3 linked regions of the Homo sapiens genome follow. The protein of the gene in region 3 purifies or fractionates together with the protein of the main gene of each other region. This does not show direct contact. Each region holds a gene or a part of one and is shown on either strand. Other genes may lie near its edges. The genes, in order: TSC22D3, HPN and CDC42SE2.

Evidence for each region.
Region 1: the proteins of CDC42SE2 (region 3) and TSC22D3 purify together in Homo sapiens (affinity purification with mass spectrometry; 2 studies listed by BioGRID and IntAct, with this or other methods). This does not show direct contact.
Region 2: the proteins of CDC42SE2 (region 3) and HPN purify together in Homo sapiens (co-immunoprecipitation; one large-scale study listed by IntAct). This does not show direct contact.

What each region holds. Positions count from the first base shown.
Region 1 is NC_000023.11:107,765,786-107,769,435, forward strand, and holds part of TSC22D3 (TSC22 domain family protein 3), read right to left. Parts: intron 1-3,650. UniProt on the Homo sapiens protein: Protects T-cells from IL2 deprivation-induced apoptosis through the inhibition of FOXO3A transcriptional activity that leads to the down-regulation of the pro-apoptotic factor BCL2L11.
Region 2 is NC_000019.10:35,048,082-35,051,731, reverse strand, and holds part of HPN (serine protease hepsin precursor), read right to left. Parts: intron 2,470-3,650; exon of another isoform or gene 2,443-2,469; coding exon 2,341-2,442; intron 2,258-2,340; coding exon 2,216-2,257; intron 1,287-2,215; coding exon of another isoform or gene 1,211-1,286; intron 1-1,210. UniProt on the Homo sapiens protein: Serine protease that cleaves extracellular substrates, and contributes to the proteolytic processing of growth factors, such as HGF and MST1/HGFL. Plays a role in cell growth and maintenance of cell morphology.
Region 3 is NC_000005.10:131,361,442-131,365,091, reverse strand, and holds part of CDC42SE2 (CDC42 small effector protein 2), read right to left. Parts: intron 1-3,650. UniProt on the Homo sapiens protein: Probably involved in the organization of the actin cytoskeleton by acting downstream of CDC42, inducing actin filament assembly. Alters CDC42-induced cell shape changes.

The sequences.
Region 1 (3,650 bases), on a different chromosome or scaffold from region 3:
GAGGAGTCCCACAAAGGAAAATTCTGCATCTCCATCTCAGGTCCCCTAATTTTCACTGGATTCTGTGATCTGGGGGACTAAGGGTGCCAAGCTCTTCTGAGCCCTGAGATGGTAGTCTTGAGCTTGTCCAAGAACTTATGAGTCAGCTTTGGATACAAATCATGCCTGCTGGTAATTCCCACACCACCTTTTTGACTTTGTTTCCCTGTTTCTCCTCTATTTCTTGGAGTGGAGAGCAGTGTCCCCACCTACTCACAGCCTGTGAGCCATTTACTTGATGGCAACACACGTGAGACAGGCTGGGGAAAAGACAAAGGAAGAGAAGAAGAGGAGCTATTGGTTTAGTTACAAACCTTGAGCTAGTGGAATATTAGATTGATGGGGGTATTCTGTGCTGTAGATAGTCACATTTGTTATTAGAGAAATCTGTCATAGAATCTGGCAATACTGACTTCACTGGGGGCTCAGTTCCACTAAGCCGGTAATGTAATTTTCTGAATAGGCCAGGCAGAGAGCTAAGAATCACTGTGAATTCAGGTCAACCTGGGGACTTTGAGACTTCATGGAGCGTGGACTGGGAATTGGCTCTTGAAAGGCCTTCCTTTAAACAGCTCCTCCACCTTCCGGTAAACCCTTTCACCTGGTGTCAGTCAGCCTGGAGTTTCCGCCCCCCCCCCAACAACTCCCCCCACCCCAACCCACCCAGTAGTTTCTGAACCAACAAGCAGATACAAAAGGAAGAGGGACTTCTGCGACCTGTTCTGGGGCCTCTCCATGCACCACGCAGTTTCTTTAGCAGTGCATTATCAGGTGATAGTAGGTTCCTCCCTGCCACCTCCAAAATGCCTCAAGCCAAATTAAGTCCACTCCAGCTTGCCTGTCTGCTTACATTTACTGCTGAGTGTGGAGGCTGAGTGTGGGACCGGGTCAGGCTTTGCTGCCTGGCATTTGCCTCTGAGCAGACTGCTTGCCTGACACTGGGGAGAGTAGGCTTTTCCTTGGGAAGTATGATGAGCTTGACTTGGACCCCCAGCAGGCTTCCAAATGCCTGTCCCCAGGGAAGCCTACCACTGAGCAAGCAGAAGTGTGATGCCTCAGTAACCTGGCTGTTACATAAGATGTGCTAGTTATGAGTCAGGGCCCTCAGGCTGGCCTAGGCCCAGCCTAGTCTGGGAGTGAGGCTAAACGGCAGCGCTGAAGGAGGGGTGTCTTGGGAGTGGGGTAAGCCAGGAAGGAGCTGCTGGAGTCGCTTCCTTTCCTCTCACTTCTCACCCCCTTCTTCCTTAGGGATAGCTCTAGCCAATCACCAGCCTAGATAGCACGGAGCGGGAATCCTGGCCAGACCCCTAAGCTGTGAACAGCTGCTCTCCATCTCCCCTGAAGAGAAGATTAGAAGAAGTGGGTTGAATACTCAAGCCTATTCTGTGAGTAAAGTCTTCCTTCGAGGAAGGATGGGGAAGGTCCCTGTGTGCTCTGTCCATAGGCAGGGGCCCGATTTCTGGCTGGACCTATTTGAGGAAAGTGGCTCCCAGGAGAGGAAGGCCAATGGTGAGCCTGGATCATCAGTGATCCAGCCTGCTTCCAGCTCTTGTTTTCCCTCGGGCTAGTGTCTGCACAATGGGAAGCTTCCCATTCAGTCTTCTGTGCTGGCTGGGATCTTAATGCCTCTTATACAGTTTCCAGAAGGGCCACAGCTACTTTGGGGCAGGAATTTTCAGCTAGAAGGTACAAGTGAACTTGCCTTGCCTACTGATGAAATTCCCTCCTGCCTGGAATAGAATCGAGAAAAGCTTGCTTTCTGCTCTCACAGATCGCATCTTAGCCCCACTCCAACTCTAGTTAAGCTGGATTTCAGCATGGTAGACAGTGGCCTCCAAAAGACATTTTCCCTGACCTGACTCTTCATCAAACCTAGGTTGCCCTGAAACTGGGATCTAGCCTTCTGGCCTTCATGGGGCTCCTCCTAGCCCATGGGGTTCTGTGGAGGGCCTTTTCTGCCAAAGCTGTGGTGCTACAGCAATGCCCTAACCCTTGTCCCATTATTGCAGACTTTGGGACAGCACAGTATGTTCTGGGCCATTATTGTTCTCTTTATTTAAAAGGAAATTTCATCTTTCTGACCCCTGTGGTCATGGACTCCTCTCCCCTGAGTTCACTGAGCACACAAAATACCCCATCAAATGAACCCATGTTTTAGTCTCAACTTAGCACATTGGTTTCTCCAGGGTTCAAGAGGCTATTGCACGATACCAACCAATTTGTTATATAAGCCCAGCCAGCCATGGCAGATTATGGCTTTACAGTTATCTCTAGGGATGGCTTACATAAGAAGAAGAGAAAGTTCAGGTAGGAGCAGAATCACGATGAGCAAACAGCGCAACAGCCACCACCAGGTGCAGACATGGCCAAACTCATTCCTCCCAACCAACCCACCCACCAGGTGGGGGCAAGAACTCTGCAGGGTTCCATCACCCGGGATGCCTAGAGGTCTTGGCAGTCTTGGCCAGATACATCCATCTCCATTTTACCCAGACTCCCTGGCCTTCAGTACCTGATCTGGAAAGGAGCCAACCCTCTACCTGGAATGGAGAGCTTGTTGGATTATCTGCAAGTGCAAATATAAGCAGGAGTGTTAACCTTCTCTTCAGGCAGGGAAGAAAACTAAGGTCACCCTGGAAAGCATTATTTGCTGAGGTGTGGACTCAGTAAATAATAGTCCACTCCTGGCAAAAACTGAGGAGTAGATGAAATTCAAGCTCTGTGCTTCCCACCTTTCTTTAAGAGCATGAACTTTCCAAACAGATCTTTTGAACTCTCATGCTGTCCAGGCCCCGTGCTGTAACAGCCCAAGCTAGGCCTTCCATGGACTCCAGCCCCATCTCTCTACCTCTCTCCTCCAAAGTTGGCTTTGCCACATTCCAGTCCCATAGGACCCTATTCCCAGTGGGCTGTCACCATGACCAGAGGTCTGATAAACAAATCCATACAAAGTAGTTAATGGCAAGTAATGGTGTCACATGTTACTCTTTAAAAAGGTATGCTAGACCTTGGCCATTCATGAGAGATACACACTAAAACTTTTGCCAGTCTCCAACTCATGGATGCAATCTCCAAAGCATGTCATTTCCCCCATAAAAAGTCCATTCCCAGGCAGCACCATCACTTTGCCAAACTTTGTAGCTTTCTCTTCGTTGTAATCACTAGCACCAGCAGCTGGCTTAGAGAGGGAGCATTCTCCTCAAGGAATGCCCTGAGACATTTGCTCATTTTATGACAGGTTCCTACGTATGTGTTGACTACGAGCAGTAGACCACAAAATTGTGTTGAAAAGTAGGTGCTGGGCAATGCCACTCCTAGGTATATACCCCAAAGAATTAAAAGCAGGGACTTGAACAGATACTTGTACACCAGTGTTCATAGCAGCATTCTTCATAATAGCCAAAAGAGGGCAACAACCTAAGTGTCCACTGACAGATGAATGGATAAGCAAAAGAGGTATATCCATACAATGGAATTTTATTCAGCCATAAAAAGAATGAAGTACTGATATGTGCTACAACATGGATGAACTTTAAAACATGTTGAGTGAAAGAAATCAGACACAAAATATTGTATGATTCAATTTATATGAAATATCTAAATAGGCAAAT
Region 2 (3,650 bases), on a different chromosome or scaffold from region 3:
AGTCTTTACTATGGCAATGAATTCAGCTGTTCTTTTTTTTTTTTTTTAACAAGCAATCAAGTGTAGACACTATATACAGTTACTACGCAGGCTGCCTGGGTTCAAATCCCAGCCCTGACACTGACTAGCTCCATGACCTGGGGCAAGTCACTCAGCCTTTCTGTGCCTCAGCATCCCCATAGGAAAATGGGTTGTGGTGGTGCACACCTGTAATCCCTGCACTTTGGGAGGCTGATCTGAGAGGACTGCTTTGAGCTCAGGAGTTCAAGATCAGACTGGGCAATGTAGCAAGATCCCATCTCTACTAAAAATTTAAAAAATGAGGTTGGGTGTGGTGGCTCATGCCTGTAGTCCCAGCACTTTGGGAGGCCGAGACGGGTGGATCACCTGAGGTCAGGAGTTTGAGACCATCCTGGCCAACATGGTGAAACCCCGCCTCTACTAAAAATACAAAAATTAGCTGGGTGTGGTGGCACGTGCCTGTAGTCCTAGCTACTCAGGAGGCTGAGGCAGGAGAATCACTTGAACCTGGGAGATGGAGATTGCAGTGAGCCAAGATCGCGCCACAGCACTCCTGCCTGGGCGACACAGCGAGACTCTGGCTCAAAAAGATAAAAATAACAATAATTTGTTATTGACAAAATAATTTTGTGTAGGCATGGTGGCATTAGCCTATAGTCCCAGCTACTCAGAAGGCTGAGATGGGAGGATTGCTTGAGCCCAGGAGATGTAGGTTACAATGAGCTAAGATCGTGTCACTGCACTCCAGCCTGGGCGACAGAGCAAGACCCCATCTCAAAAAAAAAAAAAAAAAAAAGAAAGAAAGAAAGAAAGAAAAAAAAAAGAAAAGAAAAACAACAGGTTGTTGGGAAGACTTAATGAGTTGATATCATAAGGTCCCAAGGCCTTGGCTGGTGCATACAAATGCTAAGTGCTGGTAATGATGATTAATGTTGATGTTGGCTTTTCTTGTCTGGATTTTCATTTCTGATTTTAGTGTGAACTGAATCCTTTATGGAATTAGATGAGGCTCACAGACATGAAAAATACATCCCACCACCCAACTTCCCCTTTTTTCCTGCTGTCCTGCATCAGGGAATGGCAGCTTGAAGTTGGCATTTGGGAAGATTCATTCATTCATCCCACAGTTAGTTTCTTTATCTATTTATTTGTGTGGCCATTCATTCCACATGCCTGCAGACACACTTACAGTGGATAAGTCTAAGAGCTGTTCCTGGCCCCTCGTTCCCCAGCTGCATGTCCTCTCTGGTCCTCATTTTGCACATCTGTAAAATGGAGCTAATTACCAGGGACAGGCGCAGTGGCTCATGCCTGTAATCCCAGCACTTTGGGAGGCCGAGGCGGGTGGATCACAAGGTCAGGAGATAGAGACCGTCCTGGCCAACATGGTGAAATCTCATCTCTACTAAAAATACAAAAAATTAACTGGGCATGGTGGCACACGCCTGTATTCCCAGGTACTTGGGAGGCTGAAGCAGGAGAATCGCTTGAACCTGGGAGGCAGAGGTTGCGGTGAGCTGAGACTGCACCATTGCACTCTAGCCTGGGTGACAGAGCAAGACTTTTTTCTTTTTTAAAACAAACAAACAAAAAAACTACCTCCTAGGAGAGTTAGAAGGGTCCACTGAATTTATATCATGCCTCCCCAACATGTTTTCACCATGCCACGCAGTAAGAAACACATTTTTACATCCTGATGTAGCCCATAGCTCTGTAGTCTGGGGCAAACTGCTGCATTGCTCAAAGCCTCAGTTTCCCCATCTGTAAAACAGGGAGAATAACAGTCCCACCCTCAGAGTGTGGGGATGCAGTGGGATTACATGTATATGGATGCAAAAAAAAAAAAAAACAAACAAAAATTAGCATAACCTTTACTTACTGAGAGATGTACTGTGATAGTCTGTAATCGAATCTATTTCATACTTAAAAAAAAAACATGGTTTTCCAACTCACTAATTTAATTTTATGAGGCACTCATGAGTAATACACTGGTGTCTGAAAAAGTCTGGGTTAGACATGTGGGGTGCTTAGAATAGTGCCTGGTACATAGCAGGCACTCAATACAAATGCACTATTATGATTAGCATTTCTGCATGCATTTGTGCATTTATTCAACAAATACGCTTGTTGAGCTCCCGCCAGATACACGTGTCCTCCAGGGCTCCCCCAGAGGGTCCCAGCCTGCTCCACTCACCTGGGTACAGCGGCTCCTGGTCACTCCTGAGGAGAACAGCCACTGCAGAGAAGGGAGGGGTGAGGGCAGGCAGGCTGGAGGCTGCAGGGGCCAGGGGAGGTCAGAGGCACAGGAACCGCTCTCACCAATGGCCCAGGATGCCGCCCCGATGGCTGTCAGAAGTAGCAGGGTCCCCGCAGTGAGAGCTGCCACCTTGGGTCTGGAGCAGCATGGCACAGTCCGGCCACCTGCAACAGACACCATGCTGGGGCCACAGCCAGGCCTGTCCTCATTGCGGCAGGGTCTGGGCCCGAGGCCAGCTCTGCCCTGCCCCCAGGGCTAACTTATTATGCCCAAGCATGTCCTCCCCAGGCCCAGTTTCCCGGGGCCAGCAGTTGACAGGGCTGTTCCTCCCCTGCCGTGTGAACAACCAGGTGCCCAGCTCCCCCAGGGTTCCAGCTGGGAGGGGGGCATGGCCGGGCCACCTGCCACGGTCTCCACCTCCGCCCTGCACTTTCCTGGCACTTAGGGAATGTCTCCTCCCCAGTGACACTGTGCTTTTGTATTTCTGTCTTTGCTTTGGGCCATCTCTTCTTGGGACTGTGACCCCCAACCTTTGCCCTCTTGGTAGCTCTCTTCCCTGCCGCTGGCATTTCCTCGCTGCCTCAGTCGTTTCTGCTGTTCTAGATGCTTTGCCCCTAGATACCCCCTAAATCAGACCTCTCTCATGGTACCCAGTTGCAAGATCAAATTTGCCCCTCCACTTGAAAATCTGCCAGCCTCATTTTATTTTATGTATTAATTTTTTTAGCGACGTGGTCTTGCTATGTTGCCCAGGCTGGTCTCAAACTCCTGGGCTGAAGCGATCTTCCTTCCTCAGCCTCCCAAAATGCTGAGATTACAGGAGTGAGCCACTGCGTCTGGCCAGCCTCATTTAAAAATATTGACCCTACCCCTTCCTAGCTGGAACCTAAGGCAGGTGCCATCATATCTTTGAGCCTCAACTTTCTTATCTATTAAATGGGCATCCACTGAGCACCTACTTCTAAAAATAATAATTTAAAGTTATTTTCAAGAAGAAGAAGAATAGCTCAAATTGTATTGATGCCTCCAGGTGCTAAGCACCGTTCTAAATACATCAGCTCATTTAGTCCTTATTTCAATCCCACAACTATGATTCCTGTTTTTGAGATAGCTCAGAGAAGTGGGGTCACGTGCCCACAGTGACAGCCTGGAAGAGGCAGAGCAGCGTCCAGAACCCTGGGCAGGTTTGATGCCAGGTCCCCTGTGTACAGCCACGAAGCCATCCTGGCTCTCACTGTGCGGAAGTGCCTGGCACATAGCAAGTTCTCTATAAATGCTTTATAAATCATCAGAGATGTGTGGGCCTGAGCAACTCCCCTCCCCTCTCTGAGCCTCAGCCTCAGTTTTTTTCTTTTCCTTCCTTCCTTCCTTT
Region 3 (3,650 bases):
TCTCGAACTCCTGACCTCAGGTAATCAGCCCGCCTCGGCCTCCCAAAGTGCTGGGATTACAGGCATAAGCCACTGCACCTGGCCTAACTTTGATGTTTTCTAAAATGTCTAAGGTCTTATAGCAATCCTTAGCTGTCTAACTGATCCATCCCCACTCCGTTTCCTCAACCACTTCCCTTGAAGTAACCTTGAACCATCTAAACACTGAGCACACTGCACTTCCTCTGTTTCACTGTGGCAACTCCAGCACCATCACTTGCACATATCCTCATGCCCCCACCCTGACTATTATAGGTTAAAACTATACATCAGAACAACAACAAATGGCAGAAAGAAAAGCCACAAAGGGAATAAGCAACCTTATTGCAGAGCATATTCCATACTCAACTCCAGACAGCTGAGGAGGCTAAATGTGCATGAAGGAGTGAAGTGGCTCACTGGGCTACAGTGTGCAGTATGGTTTGTCAGTGCTCTCTGTCTGAGCATACAGTAAGTCAAACCACTAGAAAAAATAGGTATGTTCTTCCACATACTTTGGCTTTTTGCTCTAAACCATTCAATGATTTCCTATTTCACAAAGAATAAAAACCAGTCTTTTCATGACCTGGAAGACCAAACATGAACTGGCCCTTGGTTACCTCTTAGACCTCATTCCCACCACTGGCCCCATGCCTCACAGCCACTCTGCCTTCTCTGATGTTCCACTCACACACCCAACCTTGCACTTACTACTCACTCTAAGTGCTTTGCCCCAAGTATTTGTGTATTTTACTCCCTTAAACTTGTGCCTATACAGCACTTAATCTGAGAGGCCTTCCCTGAACACACTATTTAAATTCATATCCCCATTTCTCCAACGTCATCCTCTTTTTTCTTGCTTTCTTTTTCCACGGTGCACTTATCACCACCTGATACCATACATACTTATTTGTACAGTAAATATGTCCTCCACTAAAGTGAGACAAGATGATGGTAGAGATGACATCTGTTGTATTCACTGTTATCTCACCACTACCTGGCTCATTGTAGAAATACCAGAGTGTTATTGTTACAAATGTACTGTAAGTGCGTACATGTCCAAAATAACACATTCCAAGGCCAGGTGTGGTGGCTCATGCCTGCAATTCCCAGCACTTTGGAAGGCTGAGGCAGGAGGATCATTTGAGGTCAGGAGTTCGACATCTGCCTGGCCAACAAGGTGAAACTCCATCTCTACTAAAATATAAAAATTAACCGGGTGTGGTGGCACATGCCTGTAGTCCCAGCTACTCGGGAGGCTGAGGCAGGAGAATTGTCTGAACCTAGGAGGCGGAGGTTGCAGTGAGCCAAGATCGCACCACTGCACTCCAGCTTGGGAGACACAGCGAGACTCCTTCTCAAAAAAAAAAAAAAAAAAGAGTAAGAGAAAAAAAAAAGGCCGGGCGCGGTGGCTCACAGCTATAATCCCAGCACTTTGGGAGGTCGAGGAGGGTGGATCACTTGAGGTCAGGAGTTCGAGACCAGCCTGGCTAACATGGAGAAACCCCATCTCTACTGAAACTACAAAAATTAGCTGGGCATGGTGGAGGGTGCCTGTAATTCCAGCTACTCAGGACGCTGAGGCAGGAGAATTGCTTAAACCCGGGAGGCAGAGGTTGCAGTGAGCCAAGATCGCACCATTGCACTCCAGCCTAGGCGACAAGAGCAAAACTCCGTCTCAAAACAAACAAAAACAAATTAACACATTCCAGATACAAGCAGCATTACAAAAAATCAGTGCTATGTGGGAAACCATTAGATGGGAAGGCAAATAATATGAATAGAAAAGTGGCTTTTTTTTTTTTTTCTGTAAATCAGGGTTCCTTGTTTTTTAAAGCTACCTTAGAAGCTGACCAGTATTCTGATGCTCAATAAGTTGGTGAAGAATTCACTATAGTTCTGTCAACAGCTAATAAATCTTTTTTTTTTTTTAGATAGAGTCTTGCCCTGTCGCCAGGCTGGAGCACAGCGGCGCAATCTCAGCTCACTGCAACCTCCACCTTGCGGGTTCAAGCAGTTCTCCTGCCTCAGCCTCCGGAGTAGCTAGGACTTCAGGCACATAACATCACACCGGCTAATTTTTTTTTTTAGTAGAGACAGGGTTTCACCATGTTGCTCAGGCTGGTCTCGAACTCCTGAGCTCAGGCAATCCCCCTGCCTTGGCCTCTCAAAGTGCTAGGATTACAGGTGTTAGCCACTGCGCCCAGCCCTAACAAATCTTTTTAAAAAATTAAATTGCAGGGCAGCAACCATCCAGTTAAAAATCTACAACCTTAGCTATATCTAGCAACAGCAACTACAGCATTACTAAGTTACTAAGTTTTGGAATACCACGGCTCAAAACATTGGGGCTCTATTATACCCTGCATTGTACTATATTAAAATGAAGGAGTAGGAGGAGAAAAATGATTATTCTACTATACTCAGAAAAATACATTCTATTTTCTTCCCAATATTGGGTTGTTCCTTTTTCACACATGGAATGTGCAAAAGCAGGGGGTGATAGGGAACAAGTGGGAGAGTCGGCATGCAGCACTTTATTTCAGTAAATATTTTAGAAAACTTTAGCAGATGATCAAGCAGCTTTAAGATAAGGCAGTCTTGATATTGTTTAGAATACCAAGGATATGTCTTTGTATAATGTAAAGAAACAAAAATTATTAGTGATTCTTTACATCTGTTTCCTGATGCCAACAAGCAAGCTATTCCTCCATTATGGTGACCACAAAGCCCCATTAAGTTTTATGTAATTTTTCTCAGGAATCAAAAAGGTAAGAAATCAGATGTCCATGGAATTTTTATGGAATACTTCACATAAGTATGTATTCATTAAACAATAACAAACAACTAACATATGTAAATGTTGTACTGATACGGGAGTGCTGGGAAGGGAAGAGTGTGGTCCCTTTAAATGATATGGGAGTGGGAACAGGGAAGTGCTGGGTAGAGAAAGGCAGGTCCATGGCTAGGGCTCCACCCCCACGGACAAACATAGGTGAGGACAGGCACTCCTGCTTTTGGGCCCAAATGTTGCATTTTCCAAGACCACCCTGGCCCGCCGTGCCCCCATCCTGGGCCTATAAAAACCCAAGACCCTAGCAGGCAGACACATAGACAGCCAAACGTCGAGAGGAGCACATCAGCGGAAGAAGACACAAGCGGTTAGACGGTGAAAAGACGTCGAGGGAACACGCCTGCACAAGAGCACACCAACAGACACCAGCATGCCAGCAGGCCATCAACTGGCTGGATGAGGCGGAGTTTGGCCGGGGCAGTTAAAGGAGAGCTGGGGCCACCTAGCAGCCCAACTCCAGGGGAAAACCATCTCCATTCTGGCTCCCTCATCGACAGAGAGCTACTTCCACTCAATAAAACTTTGCACTCCTTCTCCAAGCCCACGTGTGATCCAATTCTTCTAGCACACCAAAGCAAGAACCCAGGATACAGAAAGCCTTCTGTCCCTGTGACAAGGTAGAGGGTCTAACTGAGCTGGTTAACACAAGGCAAACTAAAAAAGCACCCTGTAACACACGCCTTCTGGCACTTCAGCTATAAAGATTCATCCCTAGACATTGTCGTGGGGTCAGAACCCCACAGCTCCCCGTCTGTATGCTCCCCTAGAGGTTTGAGCA